2 separate regions of the Homo sapiens genome follow, and region 2 is linked to region 1. The links come from fine-mapping of genetic effects on gene expression. A gene starts in region 1. The other region holds a variant in brackets. All regions are shown on one strand. Distances are from middle to middle. Region 1 holds the start of OPA1 (OPA1 mitochondrial dynamin like GTPase). Region 2 overlaps OPA1 (OPA1 mitochondrial dynamin like GTPase).

Region 1 (5,387 bases):
TTCCATGAAGGGAAAAACAAGATAATCATGAAGATGAAAAAATCAGATTGTCATAAGAATTCTCAGCAGCAATAAACAATTACATTAGAAGAAAATGCAGCAATGCCTTTACAGTTCTAAAGGAAAAGAATTTTGAATATAGACTTCAATATTCAGTCAAAACTAAAAATCAAGTATGATGCAAAATAGGTTTCCCCCAGAAATCTACTCTCTTGTTCATTGACTATCACTTTTAATCAATATATCATTTCCTAATATGTAATTCTTTTAAAAATAATTTTACACAATTATTTATTGCACCCAAATGTTAGTATTGATCTTTTCACATGTCCATGAGCATGTATTTACATATGTATGCCCAAAGAAATGCTTATGCTCTCATCTGTTAGGGAGCAGGAATTTAACTGTATTCTTTCACAACATGCAAAGGAACTATAGCAAAAGAAAAACTGCAGAGCTTGGGGCTTCTGGCTTCCCACATCTCTACTTCTTTAGGTAGCTAAACTGTGCCATCACCAGGAGACATTTTTAAGCCATGACTCAATGGCATCCATGGTAACTTTAGAAATAATTTAGCCCAATGACAGCCAATTAAATAAATACCACTTATAAATCAGTTTGTTTTAAAACTCCGTCTTTGTAGTTCTTCTTATACATCTTAATTGCTCCAACAGAGAATGCTATCTTCTGCAGTCTTTTCTCTTTTTATTTAAAGAAAATCAGATATGTTTCCTCACTAAATATTGAGAAGTAGAAATGCAAGGGTTGTAAATAACTTACTTTAATACCAAGGGCTGTGAACTTACTCAAAGACTAAAATTCCATGAGATTAAAAATACCTATGCAATAATTCTAACTGACTAACACTGTTAACTATTGTTATCTCATCTAGTTCTGTATTTTGGACTCCAGTTAACCTATATAAAACAAATTGGGCCGGGCGCGGTGGCTCACGGTTGTAATCCCAGCACTTTGGGAAGTCGAGGAGGGTGGATCACATGAGGTCAGGAGTTCGAGACCAGCCTGGCCAAAATGGTGAAACCCCCTCTCTACTAAAAATACAAAAATTAGCTAGGCGTGCTGGCGCGTGCCTGTAATTCCAGCTACTCCGGAGGCGGAGACAGGAGAATTGCTTGAACCTGGGAGGCGGAGGTTGCAGTGAGCCGAGATAGCGCTACTGCACTCCAGCCTGGACGACAGAGCAAGACTCCGTCTCAAAACAAAACAAAAACAAACTAACGAATGCATTCCATTCCTTATAAACACGATAAATTATCTATACCACTTAAAAAGGTCTGGAAAAAATTCAAAACAACTGCTTAGAAGTTAATTCAGGAAAACCACGTTTTTCCAATTTTGCTTGATGCATCTTACTTCCTATCAAATGCCTGCAACAATGAGCTAAGCTTGAAGGTATCTAATGATACTAGAACAAAATTTCCTATAAAATCCAATTTAATCTCATTACAATGCATATAGTAACGCACAGAAATGAAAAGATTTCTATGATTTTCTATTTAGAATTAAACCACCCCAGGGCAACAATGATTGAGATTAGAAAGGTGGTGCCACGTTCACGACCTTGCATCAAAAAGTAAGTCTCCCTCCCGAAACACAGAAAAAAGCTGCTATTGAAAGGGCATCTCGAATCACCGTCTCTGACACCGTGTGCGTCATTGCTCTAGTTCTGACTTCTATCAGCGGGCTAGGGAAAGAGACGGACGCCCCTTTCCCCGATAGAAGAGCCCAGGTACCTGAAGATGCAATGTACACATGGCGTGGAAATGGAAGAAAAAGAAGACACCGAGAGTTAGGAGAAATGTGGAGAGAGGTGACTCATGGACAGAGCCAAACCTGGCAGGGAGAGGACAGAAAAAAGGCAAAAGAGGCAACCAGAGACAGACAGAACACTGAAGACACAAGGGTGTAAAGGGCAGAGACAAAAGGACAATAGAGACGGGCCAAGATTGAGAGGCGTCCAGAATTTTCGGGTTGGGTAGGGCCAGAGAAAAGGGCCAGTATTGAAGCCGGCTCCGAACGTAAGCCCAGCCAGGGCTCCTGTCATTCTGGGTCCTCAAGAACATCTGGGAATTCTCCAACTGCCGTCGGCCTGGCCTGAGAGTCACCTGCACATTTTTGGAGATAGAGATAAGACAGCCCCACTCTCAAGAGGCCCCAGAATTAACGGGGCCAGATTAGAGCCTGCACTTACCAGGCCACAGCGGCCCGACGTAGTCGCCACATCCCGCCGGCGGGGAGGTCACGCAGGCGCCGAGACGGCCACGCGGGAGCCCCCGTGTGAGCCCCAGCCCGGCTCCCGGTCCAGGAATGACCCAGGAAGTGGCCCTCAGCAGCAAGGGCACAGAGCCGCGGCCGAGGCCCTCCCAATGGCGCATGGACTTCCGCAAGAGCCTGACAGGCACCCGTACTCAGTCCGTCACGGAAACAACCACTTCACCCTTTCTAGGCGGGCAGCACGAACGGTCCGCGGAGGACCAGCGCATGCGCACAGTGCGTCGGGAACGGACTGGAGCAATCCATCGCCTCTCACGGGGCCCCGCCCTCTTGCTTCCGATTTGGAATTCGGAATTAGCCTTGCAGGTTAGAGATTTGGCCAGGGGAGGGAGCGAGAGTTGGGCGGGAACGGGAAGGGCTAAAGGCGTGGAATGAGAATTGATGAATGCTCACCGGGAGCCATGAATTTATTAAGAGTTGGATATTGAGGGAGCACGAAGGAAACTAGAGAGTGCAAGGTGAAATACAGTAATAGCGTACTACAAACTAATGCTTGCACATTTGCCTACCTTCTTTCTTGGGCATCTTTGTTTGAAAGCACTTTCACATCGTTAGGGCAATCATGGGAGGTGAGAAGCAGGACGAAGAGTCATGGATAGGCTAAGTCCCTTAGAATCTCTGAGGATCAGATGGGAAAGGGACTTAAATCAGTTAGGCCAGTAACGGGTTTGGAATAAGCTTGTGTGGTTTATAAAAGGCGTCAAAATGATTTGTTCAACTGTTTCTTCCGGATTTTAAGCCCACCAGTTTGTTGAAATGGTCCTCGTCAAGGCCTCCACCAGCTCCCTATTGTTTGTGGCCAGTGAGCCTGCCACAGCATTCAGTTCAGATGCCTAGTGCTGAGCACTCCTTCAACTACTTTTTCTTTTGGCTCTCTGGCCATCACATTCTCCTTTTTCCCTGGAACTGCTGCTCCCAGGCTTCTTTGATGGCTCCCCTCCCAAATTTCTCAATGTTGGACAGGCCCAGATCTCAGCCATCTTGAGCTCCTCTCCTCCATCACTTTAAATACTCCTTTCCCCTTCCAACACAAACCTTTTATGTTTTGTAAGGAAACCAGGGCCCGTAAAAGGGATGTGGCCTGTGAACGGTTATGAAGCCAATTTTTAGGGACTAAAATAAAAGGGTCCTGTGCATCCTCTTTACTTCAGGGACCTTTCACCTCCTCCCCACTACCCGCCCCCCACCCATGCCACACACATACACAAATACACAGAGCATAAAGACAATTCCTTTTCCCTTAATTGTCAGAATCATAAGTCTGGACCCATGCACTCACAATACCACCAAGAGTAGACCTAGCCATTGATAGTAAACTTCCCAAATGCAGGACTCTTAGAATTTTCTTTATTTATTGTGGTGACTGTTTCAATGGCAGGTCCAGAGAGCAATTTGCTGTACCAACCTGTGCAAACTGTAGATCTTCCTGGGATTGTAGGGTTGTACAAAAAGTGTCTTTGTAATCGTTACTTCCTTGTTATTTTAGAAAATAAAATAAGAGAAACCAAGAGACTTTAACAACAACAACAAAAAAGAAAAATTAGGGATAAAAGACTTTAACCATAAAAAAAGGAGAAACTAACCACCATCACCATTTATATATGGTTATCATATGTTTTATGAAGCCCTTGTTTTGCAGTTCTACTTCTAGGCATTTATCCTGTGGAATCATTCCCATGTATGCAAAGATGTATGCATGATGATGTTTATTTCTGCACTGTATGAAATGGGAAAAGATTGGAATCAGTATAAATGTCCATGTATAGGAACTAGACACATAAATTACATCCGTACTAGCCATGAAAACCTATGCTTTAGGTCTGTATGTCCTGATAAGGAATGATCTCCCATAGATACATAGTGTTGCCATGAAAAAAGGGCAAACTGTTGTATAATAAACTGCAACCATTGGACCAAATTCAGCCCACAGACCTGTTTTGTTTGGTTTAGACAGTGTTGGCCTATGCAGTGTTTTAAAAATAACACTACATTTGGGCTGGGCATGGCGGCTTATGCCTGTAATCCCAGCACTTTGGGAGGCCGAGGAAGGCAGATCACGAGGTCAGGAGTTTGAGACCAGCCTGGCCAATATGGTGAAACCCTGTCTCTACTAAAAATAAAAAAATTAGCCAGCTACTCGGAGGCTGAGGCAGAAAAATTGCTTGAACCCAGGAGGCAGAGGTTGCAGTGAGCTGAGATTGTGCCACTGCACTCCAGCCTGAGCGACAGATCGAGACTCCGTCTCAAAAACAAACAAGCAAAAAAATGCTACATTTGTTGCCAAATAAAAATCAACAAATTTCACATTTTAAAAAATCACATAAAAATATCAGGATGCCTAACAACATCAACCTTCAATTCTTATATACAAAAAATGTCTCGGAACCAGGAGCCAAGTAGTAGTTTTATCCTTCAGGCACTCATGTCCTCTCCGGTAGTTCACACTCCTTCATCTTTCTGAAATTGAACACATCAATTACTGTTTATCATGAAGCTTGTGCTTCTACTTTTCTTAGTAAAAATTAAGAGGAAAAACAACCACTACTTATATTGAAACTGCCTTGGCAAAATTATGACAAGAGGAACCTGACATAGTTGACTCCATCTTGCTTCTGACCTCCAAGCTGTCCTTGCTCATTCCTGGACTTAAGCCAAATGAACTTTGGGGAGGAATGTAGTTTATAGTTTAACTTGAAAGAAAGGATTATAATAGTCCCTTCCTAAAGCTAACTCCCTCGTTGCTCAGGAACCAAAAACCACCTTTGTAAGAAAGGCCAAGAGAACAGGATCATGAGAGGGGCCTGAACTGTGCTAAGACGTAGGTATGGTTTCTATAGTCCCTTACTGCTCAGGAATCAATGTGGCCAGAACTCACAAATCTTATGACTTCCCCAATTGCTCCTATAGATAACATCATTACTATAGAATCTAAGACTGCTTTTTTGCGGTATATTTCAGACTCACCCCATCGAGACTTATGACTCATGACTCAAGTGATCCTGTGGCCCCGCCCAGAGGTGGACTCAGCACACAAGGAATGTTTTCCTATTATTTCATCCCCAACCAATCAGCAGCATCCATTCCCTACCCCT
Region 2 (5,387 bases), 62 kb before region 1:
TAGTCATATAAAGTCTCCTATGAAAAAGTATCAATTTGAGAAGTTATATAAAAATATGAGGCTGATACCCCAGTATACAAACAACATACCAAGCTGTCCTCCGCAAAGTCATTCCACTTGTGTCGTTTAATACTTTCTTCCTTAACAGCCTCTTTAAGTTTATCAAATATGTCATCATGCTCTTTCCCTTTCGGTTCTGTCATAAAGCGGGAAAATTCTTCTTGTAGGGTCTCCCAAGCAACCTATAATTATTTGAAAGAAAAAAAGCCATATTATTACTACATACTTCAATGGTTAACATGAAAAATAACACGAGCTCAAGCCAAACAGATGTGATAAATAAATCAGCTTATCAGAAAATATATGTGAAACTACATTAACAAAAAGGCAAATATAAACCATGATGTAGAGGTCTCACACGGGTTGCTGGGGACAGATATGGCTTCCTGGTATGTTTTCCTAGACATGTATAGCGGTTCTCATTTTTAAAATTGCATGCTAATATTTAAAAATTGAGAGATTTCATATAAAAGTCTGCATTTACGGCTTCTCTTGGACTAACTGAGAAGGATATACCCATATTCCTACATGACACCACCTACTGTAGCTGAACAGGGCTGTCTCTTCAAGATAAGGTATGTATTCTAAGCCTGCCACCCAAGTTAGTTCATTTATTTATTTCAACCTCTAAGACATGAGTCTGACTGCTTCTTTCACACTGCAAAAGGTTTTAAATGTCTTAATGATTCAGTCATCTTCATAGCTTTGTCTTTAAGCAAAGATATGAAGCAATGCACCAACACTTTAAAACATAGCCGAAGAGTATTCAGCTTTGTATTATAGCTAACTCCTAATGATCTGAACGGTGAAAGGAAGAGCACAGTGTCAAAAATAATGAAGAACAAAATCTACTTATAACTATGTGGGCTTTTTAATGCTGGATTTTAGCCCTCTCTCATTTTAAAAAAGAAAGTGACTGTCCAAAAATACGGAGTGAGTGGTGGGGTGAGTATTAAGATCCATGTTTCCTGACCTTCTCACCAGATCTACATTCTTTCCATGACACCTAGTGCTGAGGGACAGAAAGCAGCAGTGGAAAGAAAAATTGATGCTTTCATAACCACTTCCACTGCTTGAACCTTAGGATGTGAAAATATCCTATCATGGGACAGGGCGCAGAAAAAATGTTAGTGCCAGTAATGAGAGCTACTGAAGGGGTAGCAGCAGCTCTCTAACTTCTTCAGGGGTAAATGTGTCAAGAACTGCCAGGGCTCAGCAACGTGCAACTTAGGCAGGGAGGCTGCTGGAGTTCTTAGAAAGGGGCTTGAAGAAATTGAGAACAGAGATAAGGAAGTTAACACTGGAGCAAGATAGGAAAGGGGTGAAATCACATCCGAATAATTAGAAACTGACACTGCCTTTAAGATAGGTATGAAAAACAAAATTACTTTTAACATTGACTTCAATTTTGTGAGCAACCTCACACACAAGCACAGGACACACTGACTCTTAGCTTGAACAATCGCTGTTTATGGGGTGATGTACATGATGGATCAATTCAGATGATGAGGACCATAATAACAGCAGGTCCATTCCCTGAGCAGTTACCATGGGCTGGGCATTGTCTAAGTATTTTACATATAATTACTTACTTAATCCTTATAACAATGCTGTGAGGTAGGCAACATTATTGTCACCATTTTATAGATGAAAAAACACATAGGAAAGTTAAGCAACTAGGCAAAGGATCACACAGCTATTAAGTGATAAAGCCAAGATACATGGTAGCAGAAATAGATTCTTTAAGGTAGTTTTTTGTTTTGTTTTGTTTTGTTTTTTAATAATTCCTAGTTTAATCTTCTGTCAGGATCCTAAGAAAATGATAATTTAAGTATAACTGAGCTCAGATGAAATGCTTCATCTATTAAGTATTTTCTTTATGGAATCTCTATAATCCACAGAATCCACAGAAAATGTTCAAAATATTTCACATTCAAGCAAATACTCAAGCAAATATTTCATATTCAAGCAAAATTTGCTTGTTAAATATTGTCTTTGGAAGAAGTACCAATACCCTCAGGCCAACATCATACCAATTAGTAAATTTTTATAACCGTAGTAACTGGTAGCAACATTAAGGTTAGTCCCAAAACAGAGATGAGGAATAAAGAATAAATGAGATATAAAGACCTAAAAGAAAGATAGAGGCTGTGATGGGAATAAAATCTAAAATTCACAGCTCCTACTCCCTTCAGATAATGCTTCTTACCCATTTAATTAAATTATATCCTAACCTCTACTGCTTTATTAGGAAGTTGTTTATCAGTCCACTGTTTAAGCTTGATATCCACTGTGGTGTTAAAAGTTCCTGAATTCATGGTCTGCGCAGCTGGAAGGTAGATGTTTTCAATCACATGAGTTGATACTCTTTCCCACAAAGATTGTTGAAGGATTTCCTCCCTGAAATAAAAAAGTATCAAAAGCACCAAATCTAAATATAATATTGTTTTTAAAAACAGCTTGACTGAAGTATCATTAACTTATAATAAACTGTACATATTTAAAATTTTGATAAGTTTTCACATGTGTATATACCTGTAAATCGCACCAGTCAAGATAATGAACGCATCCATCATCCTCAAAAGTTGTAACCACTGGAACTGCTTTCTGTCACTGTGATTACTTTGTATTTTCTAGAAATTTATATAAATGCAATCATGTGGCATATACTCTTTTTTTGTCTTTGTTCTTCCACTCCAGCATAATTATTTTGAGGTTCATCATGCTGTTGTATGTATTAATATTTCACTTTTTTTTTTTTTGAGACAGGGTCTTGCTTAGTTGCCCAGGCTGGATGGAGTACAGTGGCACATTCATGGCTCACTGGAGCCTCAACCTCCTGGGCTCAAGCCATCCTCCCACCTTATCCTCCCGAGTAGGTGGGACTACAGGTGGACGCCATTATGCCTGGCTAATTTTTTAAAATTTTGTAGAGATGGGGTCTCACTATGTTGCTGAGGCTGGTCTTGAACTCCTGGGCTCAAGCAATCCTCTTGCCTTGGCCTCCCAAAGTGTTGGGATTA[C/T]AAGTGTGAGACACCGCATCTAGCAATATTTCACTTCTTTTTATTTCTGTGTAGTATTATGTTGCATGAATGTGTTTATCCATTCTTGTGTTGATAGACCCTTAGGCTGTTTCCAGCTTTTGGCTACTACAAATAAAGCTGCTATGAGAATTCACGTACAAGTCTTTCTTATGAACACATGCTTTCATTCCTCTTAGGTAAATACCTAAGAGTGGAATGTTTGGATCATATGGTAATTACATGTTTAATTTTTTTTTGAAATGTTTGCCTCAGTTTACATTTCCACTAGCAGAGAATGAGAGTTCTAGATCCTCTACATCCTTGCCAACACTTGGTATAGTCTGTCATTTAAAATTGTAGCCATTTTAGTAAGTTTATAGTGGTCATTGTGGTTTTACGTTGTATTTCTCTAATGACTAATAATTCTGAGCATCTTTTCATGCACACTTATCTGCCTAGTATTAACATATACTTCATGTGCTTACGGGAGAGTCTGAGACTGAAAATTTCTTGGTATAAATATGACAACTTATCAGATCACAGCACAGAGATGTTATAGAATGCTGTAGATAAAATTTTTCAATAATTCATGATTAAGGTAACAATGTAAAAGATGCATAATCATGTTGAAAATTCTGCCTTGAAAGACATCTTAAAAGAACATGGGTCACTAATAAAAAAATACAACTATTTCAATTTGAAATCTCAAGGAAATATTTATTTGGGTAATAAACTTAGAATACTACAATATAAAAAAAAAACTCTGCTTATCAGGGGATCCTTCTTAAGAATAATCTCAACCCTTTAGGATATAGCCACAAATCTCAGGGTAGCAGAAATATCCTGCTGTCCAAAAGCCCAGCTGAACTTCTCTGGTGAGGAGAGTCAACATCTCCTACCCTCCAAGACTATTTACTAAACATTTTGTGTAAAATTAAGTCTACTGAATCAATCAACACAGATCCTGGTTTCCCACTGCTAACTTTCAGGTCACTTTCCAGTTACAACCAGTAAAGAAATCAGAGTCTGAGGAGGATATATGACTGGGGCCCAAAAGGACAAAGACAATTTAGTCACTGAGTTAATGACAGAGAGTGGGAGAATTTAAGGAGCAAGATGAAGAAAAGCAGCCTGTCAGGGCCTCCTCTTCAGATACCACTTTATACACAATCTCAAGAAGATTACTGAAAGTTGAACTGAAGACCAGGATCCAGCCTCTGACCTCCAGGGCTTTTTTCTCATCCTGCTTCAGAAGAGACATAGTCTGTTATTTTTCCCTGGAGTCTGTGGGCCAGGAATCCATATCCCTGACACCCTTTTTAAAATCCTGATTACCAAATCCCGAGAAGCTAAAGGCAACTTTCTCAAGGGAGGTTGCTGCTTTGACATCCACAGATGCAGCTGTTATCACTTCTCCTTGCCCAGCCTCTCCTGCCTTTCATCGCCAAGCTGCTGTCCTCTGTCTCAGACTCCCACTGCTCCCCTCCATCCCAACAATTTCTGTTGTGCTCCTGTAATACCCGGTTCCATGACAAACCATTTTACACTCTCATTCTCTTTCCCTATTCTTACCTCCAAACCTTTCCTTAAGGAAAGTGATTGTCCTCTGTCCTCAAATTCTGCTGAGATGAAGCTATTCAGCAGTTAAATGGCCTTCAGAGTTAGAAAGTAGAAGTTAAGTCCTCCTCACCCCAGTCTCTCTTCTGAACCATCAGTTCTCAATGTTCATATAAAAACCATTACACTGTGAAGCCACTTCATCTAGTTATGTCATCTGCTACCTTATTGCTTGCTGCTATCATCTAACAATTTTCCCAGCCTATATTCTATGGTTTTTTTTTTTTGTTTGTTTGTTTTCAGACAGGGTCTCACTCTGTCACCCAGGCTGAAGTGCAGTGGCACAGTCTCGGCTCACAGCAACCTCCGCTTCCTGGGTTCAAGCGATTCTCCCACTTCAGCCACCCAAGTAGATGGGATTACAAGCGTGCACCACCATGCCTGGCTAATTTTTGTATATTTATTAGAGACAGGGTTTTCACCATGTTGCCCAGGTTGGTCTTGAATTCCTGAGCTTAAGTGATCCGACCATAGGGGCCTCCCAAAGTGCTGGGATTACAGGCATGAGCCACCGTGCCTGGACTATATTCTGTGTTATTATAGGTGACTTCTCTATTCCAGGTTTTGCCATCAACCAGGGATAACTTCTACTAATACACAAAATATAATTAGCAAAATATAATAAAGGTAATAGTTTTATTGCCTTCTTTATCTACAGAAACTTTACCTACATTCCACTTTAATTAA

The links. PIP is the estimated chance that this variant, and not a neighbour inherited with it, causes the effect.
Region 2: its variant is the best candidate, but not a certain one, in a credible set for the expression of OPA1 in whole blood (INTERVAL, PIP 0.86).

Annotation. Positions count from the first base shown.
Region 1 is chr3:193,590,235-193,595,621 of GRCh38, reverse strand. OPA1 (OPA1 mitochondrial dynamin like GTPase) reads right to left here and starts at 2,414. Exons shown (of 31, transcript NM_130837.3): 1 at 2,213-2,414. The coding sequence starts at 2,244. It also overlaps a transcript of ATP13A4 not described here. RefSeq lists enhancers at 1,856-1,935, 1,449-2,100, 2,536-2,585, 2,636-2,705, 2,101-2,752 and a silencer at 2,166-2,315.
Region 2 is chr3:193,651,935-193,657,321 of GRCh38, reverse strand. OPA1 (OPA1 mitochondrial dynamin like GTPase) reads right to left here. Exons shown (of 31, transcript NM_130837.3): 22 at 2,295-2,460; 23 at 90-242. The region is part of intron 4 of LOC102724808 (a long non-coding RNA gene); the gene reads left to right. Among named protein-coding and RNA genes, the nearest start is that of OPA1-AS1, 27 kb to the right of the region's middle. The variant C/T (reference allele first, on the strand shown) is at 3,084.